2 separate regions of the Homo sapiens genome follow, and region 2 is reported to be linked to region 1. Evidence: microRNA targets listed by miRTarBase, many of them from high-throughput screens and not tested one by one. Region 1 holds a microRNA gene; the other region holds the end of a gene's coding sequence.
The links. The annotated mature microRNA hsa-miR-4717-3p reads ACACAUGGGUGGCUGUGGCCU and lies in region 1 at 1,838-1,858, opposite strand. An mRNA with a match to its seed (bases 2 to 7 or 8) in the 3' UTR can be bound and repressed. Matches are read on the target gene's strand: a 7mer-m8 pairs with bases 2 to 8, a 7mer-A1 pairs with bases 2 to 7 and ends in A, and an 8mer does both.

Region 2: the mRNA of VAV3 is a reported target of hsa-miR-4717-3p. The part of its 3' UTR that is shown has no 7-base or 8-base seed match.

What each region holds. Positions count from the first base shown.
Region 1 is chr16:2,273,507-2,276,518 of GRCh38, reverse strand. MIR4717 (microRNA 4717) reads right to left here and starts at 1,899; the gene lies at 1,828-1,899. It overlaps ABCA3 (ATP binding cassette subfamily A member 3), which reads left to right. Exons shown (of 33, transcript NM_001089.3): 33 at 1-638.
Region 2 is chr1:107,570,927-107,573,926 of GRCh38, reverse strand. It overlaps VAV3 (vav guanine nucleotide exchange factor 3), which reads left to right. Exons shown (of 27, transcript NM_006113.5): 27 at 555-2,766. The coding sequence ends at 596. Among named protein-coding and RNA genes, the nearest start is that of MIR7852, 320 kb to the left of the region's middle.

The sequences.
Region 1 (3,012 bases):
AGTGCAGCCCAGCCCTCATGCCCAGGATCAGCATGCGCATCTCCATGTCTGCATACTCTGGAGTTCACTTTCCCAGAGCTGGGGCAGGCCGGGCAGTCTGCGGGCAAGCTCCGGGGTCTCTGGGTGGAGAGCTGACCCAGGAAGGGCTGCAGCTGAGCTGGGGGTTGAATTTCTCCAGGCACTCCCTGGAGAGAGGACCCAGTGACTTGTCCAAGTTTACACACGACACTAATCTCCCCTGGGGAGGAAGCGGGAAGCCAGCCAGGTTGAACTGTAGCGAGGCCCCCAGGCCGCCAGGAATGGACCATGCAGATCACTGTCAGTGGAGGGAAGCTGCTGACTGTGATTAGGTGCTGGGGTCTTAGCGTCCAGCGCAGCCCGGGGGCATCCTGGAGGCTCTGCTCCTTAGGGCATGGTAGTCACCGCGAAGCCGGGCACCGTCCCACAGCATCTCCTAGAAGCAGCCGGCACAGGAGGGAAGGTGGCCAGGCTCGAAGCAGTCTCTGTTTCCAGCACTGCACCCTCAGGAAGTCGCCCGCCCCAGGACACGCAGGGACCACCCTAAGGGCTGGGTGGCTGTCTCAAGGACACATTGAATACGTTGTGACCATCCAGAAAATAAATGCTGAGGGGACACAGTCACAGTCTGTGGGTCACACGCGCGAGCGGTCACAGGGCTCAATCACTCGCCCACAATCTAGACATGAGGCTCTCCTTTCACATTTCAATCACACAAACGTGGGACGTTGCTTTTCCCAGAAGGGAGCACACGCAGAGAATACACTGAGGTGAAGGAACAGGCCCATAACACAAAGGAAAAAGCCGGCTAGATCAACGCCCGGTGACAGGCTCTTAGTCTAAAGACAAGAGCAGGTGGGGCTGTGTGGGAAGCACAGGTCTGGTGGGAGAGAAGCTGCTGGCATCAGGGTCACCCGTGGGCATTTGCCATTTCCCAGAAATAACTCCTCATCAGCTCCCTTTTTAGTTATTTATGGAGTCTTGCTTTGTTGCCCAGGCTGGAGTGCAGTGGCGCAATCTTGGCTCACTGCAACTTCTGCCTCCCGGGTTCAAGCCATTCTCCTGCCTCTGCCTCCCGAGTAGCTGGGACAACAGGCACGCGCCACCACACCCAGCTAATTTTTGTGTTTTTAGTAGAGACGGGGTTTCACCATCTTGGTCAGCCTGGTCTCGAACTCCTGACCTGAAGTGATCCACCCACCTCAGACTCCCAAAGTACTGGGATTACAGCCATAAGCCACCGTGCCTGGCCCCTTTTTATGCACTGTTTTGTGTTTTGTCTTTTGGAGACAGGATCTTGCTCTGCTGCCCAGCGTGGAGTGCAGTGGTGGTATCACAGCTCACTGCAGCCTCAAACACCTGGGCTCATGCAATCCTCCCACCCCAGCCTCCGGAGTGGCTGGGACTAAGGGCATGCGCCACCATGCATGGCTAAATTTTATTTTTAGTATAGACGAGGTCTCATGTTGGCCAGGCTGCTGCCAAACCCCTGACCTCAAGTGATCCACCTGCCTTGGCCTCCCAAAGTGCTGGGATCACAGGCGTGAGCCACCATGCCCGGCGAATGCACTATTATTTCTTATGGTTTTCTAAACCCGATTTGAACTTCTGCATTTTACATTCCCTTAGAATTCAGAGTTTTAGAAAAGACTTGTTTTCATCACTTTGGCTCATTTGGGACAATTTCAAGTCTGTGTTTTTATCAGTCTCTGGAAATTTATGAAAGCTGCAAATCGTCTCCAGTAGCTCTTTTATTCCCTTTAAACTTCTGCCATCTAGTTCCATGTTATAAAAAATATAACGTGTTTGGGCAGTGTTTAGGCCACAGCCACCCATGTGTAGCCACCCCTACACATGGGTGGCTGTGGCCTAAACACTGCCCACGAGAAAAGTTCTGAAGTGGGCCCTTCTGGCCCCACAGCCTGTCCGCAGGGGCTGTGGCCTCTAGGTCGGGCCTGGGGCTAGGAAGAGGGAAAGGTCAGTGCACGAGGCCACCCAGCTCCATGTCCATGCCCATGGCCCTTCTGCAGGGCATCCTCAGACTTGTTTTCAAGCCCATGTGTTAGAGATTTAGGAATGTGTCATTTTTCTCCTGTGACACCCTAAAAGAGGGTTGGGGAGAGCGTATAGGACTGAGGGCACAGCCCGCATGAGGCACACACGTGTGAGGCCAGCGTACACAGGACACGCACAGGAGATACCATCCTTCCCGGTAGCACGCTGCCAGCACCAGCAGGGGTCTTTAAGTAAGGACTGGCACAAGTAGAATGCCTTCTTAGGAAAATGATCCGCAGCTCAGGAGGCTGCTGCGTGGGGACCGGGAGGGGCAGGTGCATTCAGGGCGTCTGTGGCAGGGGCCCAGGGCTGCACCCAAGCCTGGAGCTTAGATGACCCCAGGAGCAGCAGGAAGGGCCCATCTGGCATCCCAGGGAAATCCTCAAGGCCTCTGGAAACTCAGTGCTGGAGCTGGGTCACCAGGGGTGCCCTAAGGAGCCTGGGACTGAAGCCTCAGGACCCTGCCCTGGCCGATTTTTGTCTGAGCTGTGGCAGTTCCCAGCCCACGGGAGGGCAGGGGAAAAGAGCCTTGGGCCCAGGGATAGGAGTGACCGGCCTATCCACGCTCCACCCTAGACCACGGAGGGGGGCCACACATTCTCTACGGACACTGTCCCCAAACAACTGTGGCATCTGACAGAGCCAACTCCTGCCCTGCTCCCAGTTCACCTTAGACCTGGGAAACGAGGTTTTGACTTCACTGCTCTGCATGGCCTGGTGCAGGGCTCCCGTGAGCAGACGGCCCATGGGCCACGAGCCAGGTATGTGGAAGAGCCTGTGCCTTCTGTCCTCCAGGCCGGCCCAGTCCAACGGCGTGGCTCAACTGAAACCACACCCAGAACTCGGAGAGGGGAAGACCTCGCGGTGGGGCGGGCCCAGGCCAAGCCCCTCCACTGCCATCACAGGTTTACAGCGGAGCAGAGGGGCAGGCCGGATACA
Region 2 (3,000 bases), not on the chromosome of region 1:
CTCTGCCCTCTGGAAACTGGTGCTGTGTTTTGCTGATACCAGGGACTCGCTGAAAATATTTGAAATGAATATGATAGTGACATAAATAAAATTCACCTGGGCAAGTGGGACAGCTTGCTGCTTGGAAAAGAGTCGAGGAGCATTTCAGTTCTTTTTAGACCCTGAGCCATAGAGCTAAACTTTATGTGTATTGCAAAATATCTATAAGAACTGCTGATGTAAATTGGAAAGAATGGGACATAGTACCTCTGTCTTTTCATCCTGTTCTACAGCAGAAATAGGAATCATTATGCAGCAGAGCCCCCCTGTATTATACTTAATTTACATATTTATTTGTGTGCTAGTGGATTAGAACACTGTTTATTTTATTCCTCCATTTCGATCATTTACTCTATTAGGCTTCTAAGAGCAGTTAAACCAATCTTCTCACCTACAATGGACATAAAACCCCAGTTTAATTGGGGTGTTATGAAAACAAAATACTCTGTTTGTAGAATCCTTTGAAGTGTCAGATACAAAGTCATGTTGCTGTGTTGGTTGCTTTTCTTTTTTAGGTGGGCTGGTTTCCATCCACATATGTGGAAGAGGATGAATAAATTCAAATCCCGTGTTGCACCCTGCACCAAAAATTTCAGAGAAGGGATAAATAGAAGCCTGCACAGCATCGTGAATTAACTGAAGTGTTTAAAAAGCTGCATTTCTGGCTGTTCAACATCCTCCCTCCTTAGCCCCTCCTAAGTCTTAATGCTGAGATTTCTAAAGATGCTGGTACTGACAGATTAATGGCTTGCCTAGAGCTGTGCAAGAAACAGCCTGCCAGTCTGTCATTGTCAGGGACCAGGGCAAAACCAAGAGCTGTTCTTCCCAGAAGAGCCCTGCAAACACATTGGTTCGTGCTTCCCTTTACTTCTTCTGGTCAGATACCATGAATGCCAGTCATCAGTAAATCTTAATACACTTTTGCTTTATTCTCACATGCCATTCACCAGATTATTTGATGGTACAAAGAAGCAGAAGTGTAATTTTCCTTTTCCCAGCATGACGAAAAATTGGAGTTCTGCCATTTGAGCAGCTTACTGGAAAGATCCAGCCTTACTTGTCTTAAATTGTCCAACAAGGTGACTCATTGCCCGGCAAACACTTTTACCCTCAGATGTTACTCATGATATTATAAAATATGAGGCCAGTGCTCAGGTTTGCATCATAAGTGAGCTATCCCTGAAGGGTTTTAATTACTTATTTGGTGTCCTGATTATATTTGCAAACTTCTTTATAAAAGGTGAAAAAAGCACACAAAAGAGAGGGTGTCTTCATATTAAACCTTCACAACCTTCATGATTTCATAGGATTATTTTGGAAATATAGCACTTGACTTTATGAAAGGATCTGGGCTAGGTATATTAAGGGTAGTTGCCAATAACCTGAAGAAGCTGGCATTGTTTACAGAAACAGATCAAGGGCTATAATTTATGTCATTTTATAGCAGCAGTATCTATTAATACATGCCTTTTCCTCCCATCCACCTCCCCCGCACACACACAAAGATGACCTGGGACATGATTTTTTTATTCCCACATTTTCTTGGAGCACAAACAACTTTGTTGAGGATTTTGGAAGGAAAGCACAACTGGGTCCTTTATTCATTTCTGGGACAGAAAGAGGGTCAGTGGACTTTTGTGGGCCTCCAGCTTCTCTCAGAGTCTCCCCCTCTGCAGCCCATCCTGGGAGTGTATTAACTGGAGGGAAGATGGGTCTTGCAGTACATTTGTTTTGCCCAGCCATCACTCTTTTTTGTGAGGAGCCTAAATACATTCTTCCTGGGGTCCAGAGTCCCCATTCAAGGCAGTCAAGTTAAGACACTAACTTGGCCCTTTCCTGATGGAAATATTTCCTCCATAGCAGAAGTTGTGTTCTGACAAGACTGAGAGAGTTACATGTTGGGAAAAAAAAGAAGCATTAACTTAGTAGAACTGAACCAGGAGCATTAAGTTCTGAAATTTTGAATCATCTCTGAAATGAAGCAGGTGTAGCCTGCCCTCTCATCAATCCGTCTGGGTGCCAGAACTCAAGGTTCAGTGGACACATCCCCCTGTTAGAGACCCTCATGGGCTAGGACTTTTCATCTAGGATAGATTCAAGACCTTTACCTCAGAATTATGTAAACTGTGATTGTGTTTTAGAAAAATTATTATTTGCTAAAACCATTTAAGTCTTTGTATATGTGTAAATGATCACAAAAATGTATTTTATAAAATGTTCTGTACAATAAAGTTACACCTCAAAGTGTACTCTTGGAATGGATTCTTTCCTGTAAAGTCTTATCTGCGACTCTGTCTCGGGAATGTTTTGTCTGTTGCCGTCAGCCGAACTTTGTTATGGAGGGAGCAGCCTCACACAAGCAGAAACACTCCTGTGGATGGTATTGTAGCATGTATTGTTTATTTTAGTCAATAGACCCTCTCCTTATAAATGGTGTTTAGTCTTCCTGTTGCATTTCATGGGCCTGGGGGTTTCCTAGCAGAGGATATTGGAGCCCCTTTTTGTGACATTACCAATTACATCTTTGTCCACGTTTAATACTTTGTTTTGGAAAATTTAAATGCTGCAGATTTGTGTAGAGTTCTAATACCAAAGACAGAAGTAAATGTTTTCCATATACTTTGTCTTGCCTGTATGCAGCCCTCGTGTAATACGGTGAATTAGAGTGGTATTTCACTTTGTATTATTTTGTAAATATGTCAATATAATAAATAGTGACTAAATTGATTTCTAAGAGTTGGAGTCTTTTTATTGAATGATCCCTGTATTAGTCAGGGTTCCCCTGAAAATGGATGGCACTGGATTGTTGGGCCTGTACCAGGCCATCGCCAGCAGTCCAGAGTGAACAGAAGCAGTGTATGTGTGGAGGTCACCACCCCCCCGCCCGCCAGCCCCGTGGACGCTATGCGTCTAGTAGGAGGGCCGCTGCGGTGAGTCTTGAAGCCCAGGGCTGGGCCCGGG